3 linked regions of the Homo sapiens genome follow. The protein of the gene in region 1 interacts with the protein of each later gene in a pairwise test. Each region holds a gene or a part of one and is shown in the gene's direction. Other genes may lie near its edges.

What was found.
Region 2: the proteins of CTTNBP2 (region 1) and BMAL2 interact in binary tests that used the Homo sapiens proteins (3 or more experiments, as listed by UniProt).
Region 3: the proteins of CTTNBP2 (region 1) and PKNOX2 interact in binary tests that used the Homo sapiens proteins (3 or more experiments, as listed by UniProt).

Annotation. Positions count from the first base shown.
Region 1 is NC_000007.14:117,710,059-117,716,459, reverse strand, and holds the end of CTTNBP2 (cortactin-binding protein 2), read left to right. Parts: exon of another isoform or gene 1-577; intron 578-4,677; coding exon 4,678-4,923; 3' UTR 4,924-5,809; downstream 5,810-6,401. UniProt on the Homo sapiens protein: Regulates the dendritic spine distribution of CTTN/cortactin in hippocampal neurons, and thus controls dendritic spinogenesis and dendritic spine maintenance.
Region 2 is NC_000012.12:27,328,143-27,335,841, forward strand, and holds the start of BMAL2 (basic helix-loop-helix ARNT-like protein 2), read left to right. Parts: upstream 1-4,693; 5' UTR 4,694-4,930; coding exon 4,931-4,961; coding exon of another isoform or gene 4,962-4,994; intron 4,995-7,699. UniProt on the Homo sapiens protein: Transcriptional activator which forms a core component of the circadian clock.
Region 3 is NC_000011.10:125,405,643-125,412,752, forward strand, and holds part of PKNOX2 (homeobox protein PKNOX2), read left to right. Parts: intron 1-4,553; coding exon 4,554-4,683; intron 4,684-5,136; coding exon 5,137-5,234; intron 5,235-6,103; coding exon 6,104-6,223; intron 6,224-7,110.

The DNA of each region.
Region 1 (6,401 bases):
TTTAGGATTCCTTGTGGAACATCGTCAGTGGAAGGGGCCAGGAGGATCTTAGCAAGAGGAACAGTGAACCACCTTCCCCATAAGCCCAAATCACTTTCTTGTGTAAAAATAGAGAATGGCTGCTGCTTAAATGTCTAATAAAGAAACAAACATTGTCATACCCCTATTTCTCTGTCACATGACCATATTGAGTTGCTACAATAAGGTACTGTCCACAAAAAAAAAGTAGTACTGAAAGTCAAAGTTCTGGGCAGCTTTGTTTAAGATATTTTTTAAAGCGAGTCCTTTTATACTATCTGGGCTCTTATACAAAGAAAAAAAAACTATGTTATTGTTTAAATGTGCAATTTGATGTGGGAATTAGGACCGCTGCCTCCTAGTCTTCTCTCCCTTTGCCCACTGAAGACACTTATTTGGAGGGACTCTTCCCCAAGAGCTAGATGATGTTTTTCTCAGAAAGTGCCAGCAGAGGGCAAAGTGGTACTTACTGTTGGCAGCCTTCTGAAACCTTGACTGGCTGATGCCTTTTCTCTTCTCCTACTCAGCTGGTATTTCTGGGTTAGATGCCCAGTTTCTTCTGTTATCAGGAAGTATCTCCATTTAGAGGTAAGAGTTTCCTGGGTTAGTTGAAATCACTTTCTCCTTCATGGCCAGAAGGCTGGCAATGCCTCCATTGAAGAGGGGCCCTGCAACCATCATTATCTGTTGGAAAACAAAAATGAGTAAGTTATCTTTATTATTTGCAACAATATAACTCCTCACTGCTCTAACAGTAAGGGAGAGTAATTGGGTTTACTAATCAAGTGGCATTTAGCAGGCCTTCTGAATTAAAAACAAATATACATATTTAAATCAACAGGAAGAACAAATGTTAATAAATGTTTTCCTTTTATGTAAATCCAAACTAATCCTCTGAAAGGACAAGTTCACATCTTTGGTTGCATGATGAAATCCACTTGAGGCTTCTTTTTTTTTTTTTTTTTTAACTTCAGGGCCTGGACTCTAGTCTGAGGGGAAGCCTGGACAATGGGTTTTTTAAAGGTCCCTGGTGATTCTTACATGCATCCAGGGTTGAGACCCACTGTTCTAAAACATAGCCCTGATCTGTCATCTTCATTTTCCACCCATTTCTTTCTTTCCAAATATATCTTTAGAGGGATTGAGATGCCTTCATGTAGCTTTTCACATGTTCCTTTTTTACATGTAATTTACTACTTCCCTCTGTACTCCTCCCCATAGAACCTTCTCTCGTCACAGTCCTGTGCCTCTTTAAAGACTCACCCCCAATGCCACCTTCCCTACATGTTGTTCTTTTCCTCCTGCCCCTAACTTTCCCATCTAGAGGAATTACAATATCTTCTTAGCTTCTAGTAGATGCTGTGTATTGAATGAATTGCTCTGATTTACCAATTCTTTAAGGCTAAATAAAACTTACTTTAGGTCAGTGCCTTTCTACACAAATTAGTTTTTGAGTTTAACATGCACAGCAATATGGATAGTAAACGTTATACATTTAATACAGATAATTCGGGGGTTTTAGCCCAGGAAGCATTAAACACCTGTAACTCTCCTGCTCCTAAACTCCGCTGCCCCCTAGGCTTGACTTCCAGGGTGTCAGGAGCACTTTTCAGGCAGGATGCTGTGCATTGGTCACCTGCTCTATTCTTGCACTCCTGGCCTTGAATTGCTGTGGCTCACGCTAAGCCCAAGTGATTCTCCATGTTCTCATCCTAACTCCTTCCATTCTAGCCTCACACTTCCAGGGACTGACCAAACTACATGTTTTTAGTTGTTCTGGGTACTTCTCAGTACTTTATTTCATGTGGATATTTCCTGCCTCAGACCATGAAGGTACACTCCCCTCACCATCATGTTGCAGGTACAGAAACAGACTAGAACAGTGTATGTCTCCTTTCCTTCCTCTGGGCCATGGCATTAATTAACTCTGTAGATTTGACAATAATGGCAAAATTAAACAACTCCCCTCACCACCAGATTCTGTATAGCAACTAACTGTTATCCTTATTATAATGCCATATTTCATGTTTTCTGAATACTACGTATGTGTTGCATTTGCTGGTGTTTTAAACCAAATTACAAGTTCTAATTGGCCTTAGTAGGCCCATGACCAAGTCCCATTTTGCGGACTTAACAGTAATTTCTTGTTAGGAAAAATGAGATTGGATCCTGGTACCTGCACTGTTTTTACAGTTGTGACTATCACCATCCAACTCATGACAAGCAATGTAACTTCTCATTTTCTTTCTGGTAACTTGACAGCATAAGCATCTTTACAAAACAAAAGCAGAACATACTAAGCAGATTCGCCCTTAACATACCATCAAGTACACATGGAGGTGACGAGGATGGACTAGGATGTGTTCCCTCACCAGATGTAGCTCAGCCTTTTTCCAGGCTTCCTCGGACGTAGTTAAAACCGAGCCCATCTGTTTTTTGTTTTATCAGGAAGCTCTTGCCTTTCTAAGCTAGCTTCTTGCAGTCTAGACTTCTCTTTCCTTTCCCTGTAAATGCAGGTGGCCTGGACCCCAGATTTGTCCCCTCTTTATTCTCCATTACATATTTGTTGTTTCAGTGTTTTTATATTTTCCCAAACCACTAGCCAAGTATATATTAGAGTTACATTGCTGTTCCACTTAAGATTAGCTGAGTCTGAAAATCTGACCCCAAGAGATTTCACTTTGGTGATTTAGGGGTAGTTTAATGAACATGTTGTGTTGGGCTTTAAAGAATTAGGACTTTAACAGGGAAGTAAAGGAAAAATAGGATTTAAAGGGGATTGGAGCCAAACTTTAAAAGAACTTTAGTGACATGCCAGTTAGTGAGGACTTATCCTTTACCTTCCTATTCACACAAACACAGCCATAATTCTCTGCCCATTTTGTGGGTAACATTGGATTAGGTTGGTGAGGAGAGAGAGAAAGGCAGCTGCTAAAGATAACTGAGGATTTCCTGCTAAATTCACTGGGAGAGCAGCATTAGCCAGTAATGAGCCAAGCGGAAAGGCTTTAGAAATTAGTATTGAAGAAATGCAATAAATACAGTTTTAGAAAGAATTTGAAGTGTGGCTAGACATATAGGTGAATTAGTGGGGTGGAAATGCAGGAGATAAATGAGGGCTAAAGAAAGAACTTTGGGAAATACTTAGAGCTTGAAATACTCTGAAGGGAAAGATTATCAATGTGTGACTTATAGAGGGCTAAGAAAAATGCTACCATTTAGGACAGCAGTCCCCAGCCATTTTGGCACTGGAGACTGGTTTCGTGGAAGACAATTTTTCCACGGACCTGGGTAGTTTCCGGATGAAACTGTTCCATCTCAGATCTTTAGGCATTAGATTCTCGCAAGGACTGGGCAACCTAGACCCCTCACTTGCACAATTCACAAGAGGGTTTGTACTACTATGAGAATCTAATGCTGCTGATCTGACAGGAGGCGGAGCTCAGGTGGTAATACTGGCTCGCCCCCGCTCACGTCCTGCTGTGCTGCCCAGTTATTAATAGGCCATGGACTGGTCCACAGCCTGTGGCTTGGGGACCCTTGATTTAATTGCTCAATGGAGAAAAAGGATAGTGAGGAGTTAAGCTAGGCGTTCTTTGGCCGCAAGATTTTTTAAAATCGTATGTCCATGCCACACCCCAGAACTATTAAATATGAATCTCTGGTAATAGGGCCCAGCCAATGACTATTAAAGCTCCCCCAGGTGATTCCAATGTCATATAAGACGATACCCAGGAGAATGCAACTGCCGCAACTGCCAGATGAAGCCAGATTTTTCCTGTTAAATTTTAGTTTTGTTTTAAATTCTTGTAATGGTTATATTGCTGTTGGGTGCATTATTACTTTTGAAGAGGAGAAGTTATCAAGGTCAACTCCTTCAGAGGCATTCAGAGTAGGTCACTTAGTAGGAGTCATGTCATGTTTGTTAGTTTGCAGAATTTAATGCAATATAGGGAAAATACCTTGAGTGAAAGTTGGGAGACCTGAGGTCTTGTCCCAGCTTCACCACTCCGTTCACTGTGGGCAAATCATCTTACCTATCCAGCTCTCAGATTCTTCATGGGCAAAATGAGAGACATTGACCAGGTAATCACAGGATTTCTGAAACATTAGAGAAATGAGAACATGCAGCTTCCAAGTATGGAAGATCTTGAGTGGCCTAACCATAGATGAATGTAGGTTCTGCTAGGGAAGGAATGTTTCTCTTATGTTTTCTCCTATATGCCCCCAGATTATTTGATTATTGAGTAATAGTTCACTTTTAAGACTTGAAAGTAGAAAGCAGAAAAGTTAGGTGATTTACCCAAGGTGACATAGTTTGTAGAGCTACCTACAAATGGGACTACTCCAATTTGGTGATTTCCTCATGCCTGTAATTTTGTGAAGTTTCTGTTGGTAAGGAGATCGACGCCTTAGCACTTGATTCACTGACTCCTGTATTTAGGAATTTTGTAACAGCAGATGGATTAATGAAAATCATGCAGTAAGTCTATAGGAAATTAATTACTCAGCTTCTCCTCTCCATTTTCTTTTGATTTTTCACGAGAACCTATAGTTTTAGAGAGAAACTCCTGTACATTTGCTCAAAGAGGAGGCAGGGGTAGGGCTCATAACAGGAGAAGTTTGTGATAAACTTGTGTGGTTTCTTGTCTCTTACAGGAGGTCAGTCCTCTCAGCAGCCATCAAACTACTGAATGCAGCAACAGTAAATCAAAGACTGAGTTGGGTGTTTCAAGAGTTAAATCTTTTCTTCCTGTTCCTAGAAGTAAAGTCACCCAGTGTTCCCAGAACACCAAAAGAAGCAGCAGCAGCAGTAATACAAGGCAAATAGAAATCAACAACAACTCAAAAGAAGTGAATTGGAACTTACACAAAAATGAACACCTAGAAAAACCTAACAAATAGGCCTGCCTACAATATTCTCATTATTAACTTCCTCTATTTCACACAGAAACCAAGGACAACAAGATACAAATACCTTTAAATTGATAAAATGTTTTCACTGTAATATAAATTATGAGTGCGGGACCACTATTCAATTTTTTTTTGTAAAGAATGTATTTATAACCAACATTTTGTTGCTTTTTTTTTTAATTCTGTAGGATTGAACTTCAATACCAGGAAGTTATGCCAACTTTTCAAGTAGTTTTATAATAGAAAAATTGTAATAGTTTTAATCAAGATGTTCAGGGGTATTAAAACAGAACTGTGTACTGTATATCTGTATATATGTATATATGTATGTATATTTAAGGAAGTCCAGAAATCATACTGCATACATGCTACAAAAAAGTAGCAAAAAAGTACAAAGTTGGCTTAGATAACTTGTACCGTTTTAAATGGAGATCATAATTTTATGTTCACTTGATGGGGAATGACTAGAATGGGGCAATAACAAATCATTTCTAAACAGTTATTTTCCATTAAAAGCCATATTAAGTATTTTGCTTGTTAAATTCTAGTTTTATGTTTTAAATCTCTTAGTGGTTACATTGCCATTTGGTAGCATCATGTATATATTTATGCTTATAAGTTTGCATTATGACTCCTGTAAAATATGAAATTATAATGCAATAAAAGTGTTATCTTTCTTACAAAAGTTTTGTACCTAAGTGGATATAGATAACTGCATAAATGAATAAATTCAGAATTAACTCCTTCAATATTTCTAGTAGCACAACTGATAATATTGATATTTTCTACAAATGTTACTTCTAAAATTACAGACAAAATTACTTACACAATTCAGTTAAGATGCTTTGACACTGAATAAAATATTGATTTCATGAAATCATTTTGCTGTACTTTTTATCTATAGCTCTTTGTAGTCTCTGTAACAGATAATTTGTGTTCAATTTATCAATGCTCATAAAACTTGCCCTCCCATGTTAGTATTTCACTAGCTGTTCACAACAAGACTCAACCCTAATTAGAAACATCTTAAATACTTAAATGGAGCACCAGGAATTGGGTGCTCAGAGTTAAAACACCTTCCTTTTTTTTCATAAATACCAAAGAAGTATGATTTTGTACCAAGAATCATTTACTTGTCCAAAGTCATTGAAAGCCTTTTTTTCGCCAGAATGGTTATTTACAATGAAGTGTACATACCTGCATTGTATTGCTGTTACAAAACTGCACATACCTTAAAAATAACAATATGTAGTAAAGATTATGTCACTGATCTTGAGAACAAAACTGAATGCTGTCAAAATCATAGATCATATCTAGATTCAGGTGGCTCTAATGTGGTTTTTTTCCTGCTCACATACACCTGCTTAGATTATATCTAATTTGATTTGTTAGTGATAAGGCATTGTGTTTTATATTAGCAGCTTTTCTGAAGATAAAGATCCCATTAGTGTACTCAAGGACTAGAGGTG
Region 2 (7,699 bases), on another chromosome or scaffold:
AAATTAAACATTTCTCAGGTGAGATTGCTAAACTACCATCAAGTTATCTGAATTACTTTACCTCTTAACATTCATGATCAAACTCCTAAACACAGGAAGACTTGTAAGTCTCTTCAAAAGGGAGAAACTCATGGTAGGAAAAGTAAACTGTCAATACTCAGCCTAATATCTTTTTTTTTTTTTTTTGAGACGGAGTCTCACTCTGTCGCCCAGGCTGGAGTGCAATGGCGTGGTCTTGGCTCACTGCTACCTCCACCTCCCAGGTTTAAGCAATTCTGCCTTGGCCTCCCGACTAGCTGTGATTAGGTTCCTGCCACCGTGCCTGGCTAATTTTTGTATCTTTAGTAGAGACGGGGCTTCACCATGTTGGCCAGGCTGGTCTCAAACTCCTGACCTCAGTGATGTGCTCGCTTGGCCTCCCAAAGTGCTGGGATTGCAGGCATGAGCCACCGCATCCAGCCTTTTTGTCTTCTTGGGTAAAAAAATCAGGAACAGAACTTGGAGAACCCTCTTGTATGATTGTATATAATACCGAGAGGACTGAGGAAGACTTGGGATACCATAACTGCTTTAAGAGTGTTTAAAAACTGTAAAAGTAAACATCAGTTGAGTTATTGATGCTTATACACACATACAAACGCATAATCCCTAAGGGAAAAAGTGTAAGCAACTCCACATAAAAGTAGATGTGTGCACAACTATTCCCTCATTCTTGTCCTAAGTTTTGTCCTTCCTTGCAGTTTGCTCAGAATTTTAGTATATTGCTATTCCTGTCCCTAAGAAATACTGCTTCTCTCCCCGCTGCTTCCCCGGTGTACATACCATACTGCAACAACCCAGCTTAAGAAAATTGATTTTTGATAAGTTAAAGCAGTATTTCCTAGATGAGAGTACTCAGAGCAACTTTCAAAATCAGCTAGGAAGCACATTTGAAATAAGGACTTAGTGTGATTCACCCCAAACCTACTAAATCAGTCTCTGGGGGTGGGTCTAAAATTGTGCACATTCTCATGTACATTGAATTTTGGGAACCACTGAGCTAACAGAAAAAGAAACTAATACCTGCTCATTGGTTTTTGTGAGAATATATATATATAAAGTAACTGATGCACAGTAGGTAAAATACAGAAGTCAGTGCTTACAACAGTGCCTGGCACACAGCAGGTGCTCAATAAATACATGTGAACAAGTTAATTAAATGACTATTTTTGTGGGTGGCCCTGCTTTCCACCTAAGGCCAATCTCAAAATGTTTTCACTTTTAATAAAAACATAAATACGACTCCAAAAGCATTGAGAAAATGAATGCAGCTTTTGCTGAAGTTGTTATTTTCCAGGGAAATAATGTAAGAGGGTTTGCATTACACAATGAAGTTCCCTAAATACCGCTTTAAGATATCTCAAATTTCCTGGCTAGGTGCAGTGGCTCACGCCTGTAATCCCAGCACTTTGGGAGGCTAAGGCAGGCAGATCACATGAGGTCATGAGTTCGAGACCAGCCTGACCAACATGGTGAAACCCCGTCTCTACTGAAAATACAAAAAATTTAGCTGTGTGTGGTGGCACATGCCAGTAATCATAGCTACTCAGGAGGCTGAGGCATGAGAATCGCTTGAACCCAGGGAGGCAGAGTTGCAGTGAGCCGAAATCACACTACACTCCAGCCTGGGCGATAGAGCGAGACTCTATGTAAAAAAAAAATTAAAATTAAAAAAAGATAGCAAATTTCCTCTCCTTAAGGCAGCTGCACCACCTCCTTTACCACCCTCTCTGTCTCAGGAATGCTCTGTCCTCCAATTACCTCTCTGCTTTTCCTTCCCTTAGACCATGCTCAAGCTCATCTTTCCTATACCAGAAGCCCACCATAGATCCTCTTCTCTCTCTAAACATATGGGAGAGTGTTGGCCTACTTGTTTCTCCAAACTGCACTCATCAATCTGCCCAGCAAATCCAAGCATCTTCCCCAGGATTCACCCTCCACAGGATGCTGGGGGCAGGGTAGGAAGAAAAGGTAGTTTTAAACATTAATAATTTATTTTCCCCAGTCACTTAGGAAATCAATAATGGGTAGTTGCTATTTATTTATTTATTTATTTGAGATGGAGTCTTGCTCTGTCACCCAGGCTGGAGTGCAGTGGCGTGATCTCAGCTCATTGCAACCTCCCCCTCCTGGGTTCAAGCAATTCTCCTGCCTCAGCCTCCCGAGTAGCTGGGATTACAGGTGCCCGCCACCACACCCAGCTAATTTTTTGTATATTTAGTAGAGACGGGGTTTCACCGTGTGAGCTAGGACGGTCTGCACATCCTGACCTCGTGATCCGCCTGCCGTGGCCTCCCAAAGTGCTGAGATTACAGGCGTGAGCCACCATGCCCGGCCTATGTAATGTTTTTTTTTTATTTACCATCTTTACCATTTTAAGTGTACAGTTCCCAATGGTAATAAATATATGTTCAGCCTTCTTTTCCCCTTGTTGTTTTCCACCCCCTCTTCTCTCCCCTTCCTGGCTTCTGTGTTATTTATTGTTATGCATCATTGGAAATAGTATCTTCAATTTAATTACACTCTGAAGCAGGTGTGGTTTTTTGTTGTTTTGGGTTTGGGTTCTATCTTGTTGTTTTTTGTTGTTGTTGTTGTTGTTGTTGTTGTTCTTGGACCAAATACAATATCTAAGTGGCTTTAGGGACTCCTCTCTAATCTAAGTTATATTGTTACAATCCCAGCAGAATGCTAAAAGGACAGGAGTTTACAGCTTGTGAGGCCGTGGTTCCTAATTCCAGATGGACAAAGGAGTATTTGTTCCACCTTTAAAATATTTGTTCTTGCCTGAGTACTTAGCAATGAAAGAAAATTAATGAACAAATTAAGTGAAAGGCAAGCAATGATTCCTGGAGAGCAAGGCAGCTCCAGGGCTTTTGGCAGGGGAACCATGCTGACCAGAAGGAACTGTGTGCATTCTATTACACAAATTCTCTAGCATTCTATTATACAAATCATCCAATCACCTTTCTCACATTTTTTTTTCCAAGTTGAAAATATGAGAAAACCACTCACTGGAAATGAGAGATTACCTTCCTATCCATCTGGCAAGACATTATATGTCTCTCTGCCTTATCCTATGGGTTATATAGCTACTCTTTAAAAAACAAAAAAATCATGTCTTAGAAAGTAAAGCTCCAGAGCATAAAGAAAAAAAGAGAGCAAGCAGGCTTTAAACCTGAGCAGTAAGGGGAATACCTATTAAGCAATGAAAGGGTTGTGCCCCATGGAATGCTGTAGGTCGGCTTTGTTTGTGCATTATTACCCTTCCTGCTTTCGTATTTTAGATTCTGGATTCCCCTTCTCTTGCTTTCAGGCTTTGGTGGAAGTGAATCATCGTTTCTAAGAAACGGGGACTGCAATGATTCACAGGCAAGCTTACTGGACACCACAATAGGAACTCCTAAGAAGGAGACCTAACTTTTATGGTCTTGCTTCTACTATCTACTAGCTGAGTGATCCTGGCCAAAATACTCGACATCTCTGAACTTCTGTTTCTCTACTAAGACAGGAATTAAGAAAGAGGTTGTGAGGCTCACTGAGCCGATAAGGGGGAAAATGCATTGTAAGCAAGGCCATGTATAGAATAGTATTTACATTTTAACCCAGATCTTAAAGCCCAGGTCTAATTAATTCTACCTGTTACCCCTTGGTAAACCACCTCAAAATAGTGTACACTTGTCTGGAAAGCCAAGGTTTGATCACATTCGGGAAACCCTGTATGGAATTACTGTTTCTAGCTGCCAGGAGAAGTTGGTGTTGGTAGAATTTGGGGTGGAGTTCCAAGTCAAAGCTAGGAATGAGACGTTTCAAGACTGGTTTTGATTAGGGATGTGTCTTGGTGTGTGTTGAGGACAGCACAGTTTTCAGCACGTCTCCCTTACCTCTAAAGTCCTAGCCCCTGCTTAAGCCTGCAACAGTTTTCTCCTGTCATGCCCACTTCTGCTTGGGAACACACTTCCAAACCCTCTGCCCAGCCTCTCACAATGGCCCTAAGTACTGCCCTGAGGACACATAAGGTGCTGGTTAAGACGTTGGAATTGAGTCCTTGTAGGAAAGTTATTACCTTTAGGCTGGTTGCAAAGTTTGATTTGGTGTCTTCTCTACTGTGACTTTCCTTTACTTACTTCTACTAGATTACCAAGGAATGGGTCTAGGGACCAGTGGGAGGGCAGCAAACCAGTGTATTCTAGACACGTGGCCATAGGATGTAGGGCTGTCAAGTGATGCCCAAAAGATCTTGTTTCTGGATTTACCCAACCGTTCCAGGAGGCAAAACGGCTTCCTCGGGACCCTCTCTCTGTCATCTACACTCTCGTCTCTGCAGCTAAGCCCTTCCTTAAGCAGAAAAGAGCAGGGTCTCTCGTCCAGCACCCTCCTCCCCAACCCTAGCCCCGTGCCCTCCGCTAACCCACCGTGCAATTATCTTCATTCATCCTTTACCTTTGCCCCGAGGGTCTAACAACTGCAATCTTCGGAATGCTGGGACAAAGCTTACTATGAGCATGGAAGCCTGTTTTCAATAGGGTGGTTGCTAGAAGGACTCAACTGGCCTTTTAGTGCTTTGCTGCTCGCGGGAGGGCTCGGCGGGGCGGTGTCCGCAGCGACTCCGCCCTTGGCCCGGGTCTCTTTCCCGCCGGGAAGCCCCGCGGCGCCCAGAGCGGCGGGCGGCTGGCTCCAGTCCGCATGCTCAGTAGCTGCTGCCGGCCGGGCTGCGGGGCGGCGTCCCGTGCGCGCCTACGGGCTGCGGTGGCGGCCGCCGCGGCACCCGGCAGGGCCCGCCAGTCCCCGCTTCCCTGCTCCAGAGCCGCCGCCTGGGCCGGGGCAGGGCGGGCCCGGGGCTCCTCCATGCTGCCAGCCGCGGGGCTGCGGAGCCGACCAAGTGGCTCCTGCGATGGCGGCGGAAGAGGAGGCTGCGGCGGGAGGTGAGGTTGCCGGTGGCGAGGCGACGGCCCCAGGTGGGCGCGCGGCGTCTGACGCGCTGGGGGCGTCCCCGCGACGCCAGGTCTGCCCCCGCTGCCCCGAGGGAAGCGCCCGCGCCTGTCCTCTCGGGCCGGAGCATCGCCTCCGAGGGGCGGTGGGACAAGGCCGCCCCGTGGGGCACAGGTGCGGCGCGGCGCCCGGCGCGTCCTCCCGGGGAGCGGGACGCGGGGAGGGGAGCTGGGGTCGCCGCCGGCGCTCAGGACGCGGTGTCTTGGTCCCGGGCCGGGCGCATTGGCGAAAGGGAGCCAGCGGGGGACCTTGCACCCGGCGCTGGGAGCATCCGCCTCCACCCACTGCTGGGCGCCCGCGTCGGCGTCGGCATGGCATGCACTGCTGCGGGGACTTCCTATATTTCTTCTTTCTTTTGTGTAAACCAGTTGTCAGCAGCCTCGGACCTAGCCCGGTTCCTGTGAACCCCTCCCCTCTGAGCTGATAATACTCGCGGCTTCCCGGCTTGAACCGCTGCCCCGCGGTGGAGCGCGCAGGTGGGCAGGTGCGCGTGGACGCGGGGCCACACTCCGGGATCGCAGCCCGCTCCGCGACAGCCCTCCATAAGCGACAGGCGGCTCGTGTCTTTCACCGCTGAAGCTTCAGGAAAGCCGTCAGTGGAGTTAGCTTGTTCGATTATGTATTTCTGTGGTATTTTTGTGAATGGAGTTGGAAGTTTGCGGTGCTTTTTCCTTCTCGCTAGTATTCACTGGCAGTATTCTGTAGTTCCTTACAACGGGGCCTTTGGGACCACTGCTCACAATTACGGAATGAATACAAAATAGCTGTTGTTTAAGACAAATGAGAGGCAGGAAAACAGAAATAACTGAAGGAAGACTGGCAGAGAAGTTCAGGGAAGCAGTTAATTCTCCCCTTTCCTTTTGGAATAAGATGATAGAGTTTTAGATTCTTCTCTGAAATAAGGCAATGAGAGGAGGTGGCTTTCGAAATTCTAATATAATTGTGGGAATTTACATCATGGGGCGATTTCAGAAATTCGATCATTTGAATATTCGTAGTCTTAGGTAAACCCTTTGTTGAAAATAGAAGATGGCACGTGTGGTGTTTATAAGCTCTGACACCCTTTCTGCTCCGTCTTGTGACTGAGCTCTGCCCTTTACTGTCTGTGTCACCCAGGTTATTTGAAATCTCTTAGTCTAAGTTCCCCCATCTGTAAAATGGAGATAACTATGCAGTCTGCCTTATAGGATTGTTAGGAGTAAATGAGATATGAGATATGAATGCAAATAAAATGCTTAGCCCAATACTTAGGAAATAGTAAGTGCTTCATAAAACATTAACTTAATGTAGTTATTAATTTACAACTTCAATTTGCTTTGTGAAATTGGTGAGTGCTGTCTGGTCCATTAAGAAAGTGTTGTCCCTTGTGAGTTAAAATTGGCCAAACTGAAAGGAAGTGAAAATGCACCTACTAATTCAAAGAAAATGCACCTACTAATTCCCCAGATAAGTCTTACGAACTTACAACAAGCTTTTAGATAAAGTTTAATGCTATTTATCTAACTATTTTAGATTAATAGTTTATTGCTCTTTGCATACCAAATGTAAAGCTGGGAATAATAAAAATTAAATTTTCTTAATTAAGGGTAGCAATGTTTCTGTGCGGGCTGGGAGAGCCCGCAGGTATGAGTACCTAAGATGTCACAGACATTTCACAGGGGTGCTTCTGTTAGTCTTACAACAGCGTTGTGAGGTAGGTAGTATCTCCATTTCACAGATGAGAAAACTGAGGCTGGCTCACAGTTATACAGCCAGGACATGACAGAACTAGAGTTAAAATCCATGGCTGTCGCCCATACTCCTTTCTTTTCTTTCCCATCTGACTTGGTGGTGCTAATGAGCAAGTGTGCTCACTTCCAGACACCTGCTTATCTAAAGAGTAGTAAAAAATAGAACGCTCAACGAAACCTCTAGGAGGAAAAAATGTATATGTATTTTTACTATTTCTCCCTATTCCCAGAGGGAAAACAAAAACAGGCCTCTGGGCCAGTTGGTGGCCATCTACAAAACTAGCCCTAAGGTTTTGTTTTGCTTTGTTTTGTTTTGTTTTGTTTTGTGTTTTTTTAACAGTGTAAACCAAACTATGGGTTTCCCCACCCCATCAGTTTTAGATGGTAAACACCGAAATTGAGCATGCTGCCAAGTGACTGGGTGTCCTCCTAATAAATGATTCCAGAATCCTTGGGGTAGGAAGAGGGCAGTCTTGGGGAGCAGCACATTTCCAAGACTCACTGCCAGAGATGGTCTGGGGTTGAGGCCTCTGTGGGGCAGCTTTCTCACCTTCCGTTTTCTTACCAGCTCATGTTTTCACCTATGATAGTGTAAGATCCAATTCTTTTACATGTAGTTCTGCAATTACAGTGGTTTAAATTTACTTTGTGAGTCAGAAATCAAACGTCATGTCCCAATCAATTTTGCCTAAGCTCCTGTTACTGGCATGGATCCTTGGGCAAAATTTCAGCCAGAAATGCATTATTCAAGATAAACCAGGATGGGCTAATTACTTTTCACATATTTAAGGGGGAGGAAAATAGAGAAGGAAAGAGAGAAAGAGTGAGAGGAGGGAGAAGGCAAGAGAGGAGGTGTGAAGTAAAGAGAGGAGGAGAGGGGAAAGGAGGAGGAAGGAGAGAGTGAAGGAAGGAGAAGGGGAGGAGGGGAGGGACTGCCACTC
Region 3 (7,110 bases), on another chromosome or scaffold:
GGCAGTCGCAGTTCCAGGGTGTTGCAGCTGGCCCAGAGGATGGTGCTCGGGAGGCACCAGTTCTCTGCCATTCCAAACCCAAAGCCCTGCCTTGCTCTGCCCCTCCTGAGAGGCTCCTGCTTCTGAGTCTCAATCAACAGCACACAAGGAACAGGAGTGGGGCCGCTTCCAGGGGTGCCCATGGAGCCCGGCGTGTTGGTTTTCATCTGATTCCCAGGCCTCAGGCAGTTTCCAGAGGCTTGGGGACACCACGGCTGTCTTCCTAGTGGAACAAAACGAACAGAATTCTTGGGCTGGATAACCAGCTGTCATCCCCAGGTTCCTGGATAATTCCAGCAGGGATGTGAGGCTCTGGGTGCTGAAAAAAGTAACTAGAACCGTACCAAACACTCTTCTCACTTCCATCTGGGTGCTAAGGAGCCTAGAGGGGAGCAACTCTGTGTCTAGACACAGTGGCATCTACCTGGGTTTGGAGTCTGATAAGCCCTGAGGGGAAGCTGTCAAAAAGCTAATAATACTGTGTGCTTAGCCAACATGTGCTCCCCACGGGGTTTCCACCGCTGCTCTGGAAGTTCCTTCCTCAGAAAAGAGAGTCAGACCCTCCTTGTCTCCATTCCACGGCTCTAGAGACTAAGCCTGGACTGGAAATCGCAGCCAAGTGGAGTTGTGGGGCTAGTCAGAGACGATGCTTAGGATCCTGGGACTCGACCATTGCCCAGGAACATCTCAGACAGGGAGACATGTAGCCAGGTTTGCACAACTCTGCCTGCGTGCGCAACCCCAGCTGAACCCCTTCCATTGCTACGTAAAGAACTCAAGTGGCTTGAAGGCTTCTAGGACAGGTTTTTAAATCCCAACTGTACGACTCCCTAGTTGAGTGACCTTAGCCAAGGGAAGTGGGAAATAAATTATTGGATGGCTAAATGTGCCAGGCACTGTGCTTGCATTGGAGCCTGTCTGACCCCGAAGCACATATCCTCTCTCTGTGAGCACTCGTCCTACACTCAGAGCCAGAGGCCTTAGGCTGGAGGCACAGTTATTTGACTCTGGGAAGTCACTTCCATCCTCTCTGGACCTCAATCTCTCTTCAGGCAAATAGGACAGTCCTGCTGACCCCATGGGGTGATGGTGACATTAAAATGGAACAGCGTGGTGAAAGCTCTCTCATACTCAGCGTGTACGATCTTTGGGACCATCACAAGGAAGTTTTTAGAAATATAGATTGCTAGATGATGGGTGAGGGTCTTGACCCAGTGGCCCTGAGAATCTATGTCTAAAAAAAAAAAAAAAAAAAAAAAAAAAAAGCACACTCAAGGCAGGTTTGTGAAGCAGCTCATGTTTACAGATGTAAGGGATGAATATCATTTCCCCAGACCTCCGGGATGCCAAAATTTTGCTTCCTCTTCCCTGCCCCACCTAAAACGTTGCCAGTCCCAGCCCTGCCCTTGGACTCTATCTCTGAAGGTTTTTATTTTATTCCTTCACTGATAGAATCTGGCTGCCTCTCAGCACCTTCCAGCCAAAGACCCAGGGAAGGGAGAGAAGGGTAGGAAAGAGAAGGCTCTGATCCAATGCATAAATTGCCCTTAGTTACCCAAATTGGGTAAATTGGCATGGAGGGTATCCAAGCCACAAGGTGGAGAAGCAGCCAGGGTCTGAGTAAGCAGACGAAGCATCCAGGTGGTGGCTCACCCTCTGCCTTTGGCTAGGAAACAATGTGTGTTGGTTGAATCCCAAGGGACACATCTTGTATTTATTTTACTGACTTTGCTTGTATTTTTCTAACCTTGTTGGGTACTTTTTTGGGGGTGAAGAAAGTCTAGGACAACCTTTTATGTTTGAAATTCTCAAATATCCCTACCAGAAGAGGCACAGGCTAGCATGGATGATTCCAAACAAGGGATTGAGAAGTCACTTCCACTGGTTTTAAGGTGAATGGCATGGAGGTACCCACTCCCCCATTAAATTTACCTTCAAGCCTGGTGTGGTGGCTCACGCCTGTAATCCCATGACTCAGGAGGCTCAGGTGGGAGGATTACATGACCCCAGAAGTTTGAGACAAGCCTGGGCAACAGAGCAAGACTCTCTACCCTGTCTCAAAAAACAAACAAAAAAAAAAGTAAATTTACCTTCCGAGTTTGCTTCAGCTTCAAATATAATATCAGCACGGTTTACACACCATGAGAATGGTAGGCTGGGATGTTGGAACAAGGAGAACTCAAACTCAGAGCAGTCTCATCGCTGAAAACTCAGGCGTTGAGGGTCCCGGTGTCACATGCACTGTATACATAAGGAGATGAGGCCCACAGAAGGGTGGTGACGAGATTGCCTTTCCTCCAGTGCCCACGCTGCTTCTGGACTTCTGAGTTTTAGTTGTTTTTATCTGTTCACCTTGCCTGCAATGATGATTGGTTGACCTGCAGGATTCAAGGAGCATTTGCAGCCCAGAACCGGTGTAGGGGGCATTTGTGGGTGAAGGAGATCTGTGTTCTAGTCCTCTGGCTGCTAACGGGCTGTGTGGCCTTGGGAAGTCCCAGGCATCTCTAAACCTCAGTGCCTTATTTGTACTTCAGGGAGGGGAAATGTGTGGCTTCCAGGGGCTCTTCCAGTTTCTAGGCTTCTGCATGGCAGACTCCATTTTAGACTGCGACTGCAGGAACAGAAAGGCCAAGAGCTCTGCTCAAAGTATAAGCTTCACGGGCTAGGCGGCTCCCACGGGGCCCCAGGAAGGGGAAGCCAAGGCAAGAGCTGCCCCCTCTGTTCCCCAAGGTCACAGCAGCAGAGGTGAGCTCAGAATAGAAGCAAGGCCTCCATCGCCCCACCCACCCGGAGGAGCCACACCAGGAGGCCCGTGCGGCAGGTGGGTGGGAGGAGGGCGTGCTTGGCTCCTCTCCTCCTGGCGCTGCTTATTTATAGGAAATACTCCTCCAGCTCTTGGGCCAGAGACAACCCAGGAGAGTAAAAAAAGGCAGCTCTGGAGGAGACGCCAAGGGGGATTTAATCAGCTGAATCGAGTGAGATGTATAAATCAGTGCCGACTTCCACTTCCTGACAGGCTCTGCCAGGTTCTGTGTTGTCAGGGTCTGGGAGGAGATTCGCCATGGCTGTCCCCCGGGCTGTAACACTTTCCCTTCGTTGCTACAGGTAGGCAGTCACTGGCTCGAGGTTTCCTCCAAACACAGATTTCCGGGCTCAAAACCCTAGACTTGCCCTGGAGGCTGAAGACCCAAGCTTCTTCAAGTCCTAAAACAAAAACCGGGAAGCTGGGGCCTTCTTTTTTGCCCCATTTTGTCTATTTCCTTGACCATTTACCTGTCTCTAAATCCTTGCAGTTCACGCCTTACGATTCCAGCATTTGAGCATGGGAATGTCGCCGAAATGGCCATTGGACCTGTTAACTGGTTCAAGCCCCGTCTTCAGATGAGGAACCGTGGCTAGGAGGAGCTAAGAGACTCAGGCAGGCCTCCTGAGGCTCCCACACTTCACTCGCTGCCTTTTTTCTTCTCCGAACCTAGAGACCCTAACCTCTCCCACATCCTATTCCTTCCTCACAAATTCTCTCCAAGCACCCAGCCTCCCAGTGCAGGCTCCCCAGAAAGCAGGGAGGGCTCCACAGCAAGTCCAAGGACTTCTTTACCCAGCTGTTAACTAGGAATGGTGAGGAGAGCAGAGGGCCAGGAAAACATGTCTTACCTGCCTGGGCTAACGCAAAGAAAAGCGGCAAAGGTTCCGTGCTGGTCGGCAGTGTGGGGAGAGGAGAGTCTGTTTCCAGTGGAATCCTGTGGGCAGCCTGAGGAAGAGAACAGGATCGATGCCATGTGCCGAAGGTGGCTGAGGCTCATATGAGACACCCTTAGAAGACAGGTTATGGGAAGGCTAGGGCGGCTTTCATTTGCTTATTTAACATGTATTTTAGTATCCTGAGCTAGGTGCTAAGGATACAAAGGTGAGAGCTGGAGGCTGCTCTGTGTGTGCAGCCTAGTGTGACAGGCCTGTGATGGAGGTGTGTGGAGAGCAGCCGGGGGACGGGAAAGCATCAGGAGACAAGCGTCGCTGAAGGATGAGCAGGTGCCGACCAGGTGAAGCCATTTTCTCAGACCCGGCTGACAGTGGAATCACCTGGGGAGCTTTTAATAACCCGGAGCCCATTGAATATGATGGATCTGATCAAGAAAAAATCCAGAGCCCAGGACACACTCCTGAACAATTAAATGAGACTCTCTGAGATTGGAACCCAAGCATCATTACTGGAGATTTCAAAGTACAGCCAAGGAGGAGACCATGGGGGTTATCAGATAATTTGTGCCTTAGGTTTTCAGGGCAATGGAATGGTTAAATGGGTGACTCTTTTTGTTTTTGTTTTTTTTAATTGAGCCTTCTTATTCACCCTTTCTAGGAAACCAAGAGAGTTGCCTTCTGGACCTGGGTCTGGGGAGGAGCTAGAAGGAGGGAGGGGGGCAGGCAGGAAGGGGAAAGGACGGAAGAGGACTCTGGGGCTGTAGGGTCTAAGCTCTCAGTGTCATTGTCACAAACCACGCCTCCCTCACTGCCAGGACCTCCTGCAGAATTCCCCCAATTCCATGTCCGGAGTCTCCAATAACCCCCAGGGGATTGTGGTCCCAGCCTCAGCGCTCCAGCAGGGCAACATCGCCATGACAACCGTCAACTCACAAGTTGTGTCAGGTCGGTGCAAAGACTGGGAAGGGTGATTGTGGGAATTCCCTGGGAGGAGAAAGGGTGGCCCCGAGGCGGTTCCAGGGGTGGGGGTTGTCCTCCACCGAGGGAGGGGCTCCCAGCTCAGTTTCTTGACTAAAGTTTTCTGTAAGTTTATAGACGGTTAGCGCCAAGACCCAATTGTGATGGTTTAGAACAAATTTGGGTCAAAATCTCATGAGCCCCTGAGAGGACCAAGTAAGGCTGTTGTCCCTTCCCCGAAGCACCTCCCACCAGAGGCTCTGTCCTAGGCTCTAGACACCATCCCCCACCCACCCATAAAGCAGAAAGCCATAGCTCGCTACCCAAGGGCTCCAAGTAGAGGGTCTTTACACATGAGTGCCAAATGAACTGGGAACCCTGCTTGCCCTCGCTCCTACCCACTCCCATGGCAGGGGACCCCAAAACTGGTTGTCTCCTCAGGTGGAGCCTTATACCAACCGGTTACCATGGTAACCTCCCAGGGTCAGGTGGTCACCCAAGCAATCCCCCAGGGAGCCATCCAGATCCAGAACACACAGGTGAGTGTGTGTAGGTGTGTGCACATGTGCATGGTGTGGGCTAGGGCACCTGTAATCGCTTCTTATCTGCCAGGCACTTTACACGGGTGACTCATTGAATCCTCATCATCCTCTAAGAGGTATCATTACCCCTACTTTACAGATAAGAAGCTGGGTCTTGGAAAGGTTTTATCAACTCCTGGGATTTTGCTGCCTCCCTCCTGGGGTTACATCAAAGGATCCTGCACTTCCTATTCCTGTCTGCAGACTGAGCCGCTGTGTCCCTCAGTGGTAGAGAGTGCACACACAAAGGAAGAGTAGAAAGATCGGAAGTCAGAGTCTGGGATCTGACATTAACTCTGGGATCTCTGATAAGTCACCTAACCTCTCTGAGCCTCAGACTTCTTATTGATAAAAGGGGGATTAATAGCAACTGCACACAGCCTAGCCAACCTACAGGGCTGCTGTGAGAATGAACCACAGCGATGGATAGGAAAGTGCTTTGCAAACTGTAAAGTACCACAGAAATGCTGATAACTACTTGACAGCTTATGGCAAATTCATATCTTCTCCTGTTCTCTCTGCATGGCCCTGTTTCCTCTGTCTTTCTCTCTCTCTCTCTCTCTCTCTCTCTCTCTCTCTCTCTCTCTCTCTCCCCCCCTTCCCCATCTCTTCCTCCTTGTCCTTCTTCCCTTCTCCCATCACCCAAGCCTCACCTCCACTCTCTGAGGGGCTGGCATGGGCTGAGAGGGAAAGGTGACCTCCCCAGGGCCCTAGGAATGAGCCGGGAAAGGGGCTGGCAGCCAAGCCTGCCGTCGCTATGGCAACAGGTCCCCAGCCGCTGCCCTCACAGGCTGCTGATGCTGATTTTCTCTCCACGTGCCCTGAAGGTTAACCTTGACCTCACCTCCCTCCTGGACAATGAGGATAAGAAGTCCAAGAACAAACGAGGAGTCTTGCCCAAGCATGCCACCAATATAATGCGTTCTTGGCTCTTCCAGCATCTCATGGTGAGTGTGTGTGTCTTGGGGGTGTGGAGTCCCGGCATGGGGTATGAATAACCCACCGTGTGGGTACCAGACTCTGCTGTCGGCTCCAAACCCACAGACAGAGGGCGCGGCCTCGGGGAGAGCTCTCTGATAGGAATGACATCTGGAGTCCAGGCCAGGGGGGCTCAGGTGGGGCCTAAAGCTGGAGACCTTCTCCAGTACCTGCTGCTGTTGCTATCTGGAAAAAATGTGGCAACACATGGGGTAATGGGGACAAGTGCATGCTCAAGAGTCAAGTGCTGGGCAGGTGTGTCACACTGTTTCATGAACAGAGAGAGGGTCACTGCGGGGAGTGGGTGGTTTCTGGTCCAGAGCCCTCCCCCTGCCGCAGCCACGCTCACCGTGCCCCTCTCCCATGGAAGAATGTGTTGACTCTGCCAGGACTCCTGAGTCCTCCCCACTGGGTGAGCCAAGCGCTGTGTGGTGGAGATGGGCGCCAAGGCTGGAATCCTGGCTCCTCATGTCACAGCTCAGCTCCAGGACACAGCACTATTTCTTTCATAAGCTGCAGCAGCTCCTTTTATAAAATGGCACACTACCTCGGGTTGCAGTGGAGTGTTACTGAAGTGCATACTGTGTGAAGGTTGCTATGTGTTTGTGTGCAGCATTAGTTGCAAAAGACGAGCCTTTGGTGGAATGTCAGGAAAGACTTCAAAATTGCAATCTCCCAACACCACTTTCAAGGGCTGTGGCAGTAAATAAAGGCCAGTGACTGTGCTGAGTGTGTATGCGCTGGTGTGTGTGTGTTCTGGGGTGGGGAGGTAGATGCTGTGACCACGGGCGGGCTTCCATTAGTCTGCGAGCTCCTGCCCTGGCATGTCAGGACAGACAGACACAGATACAAGACA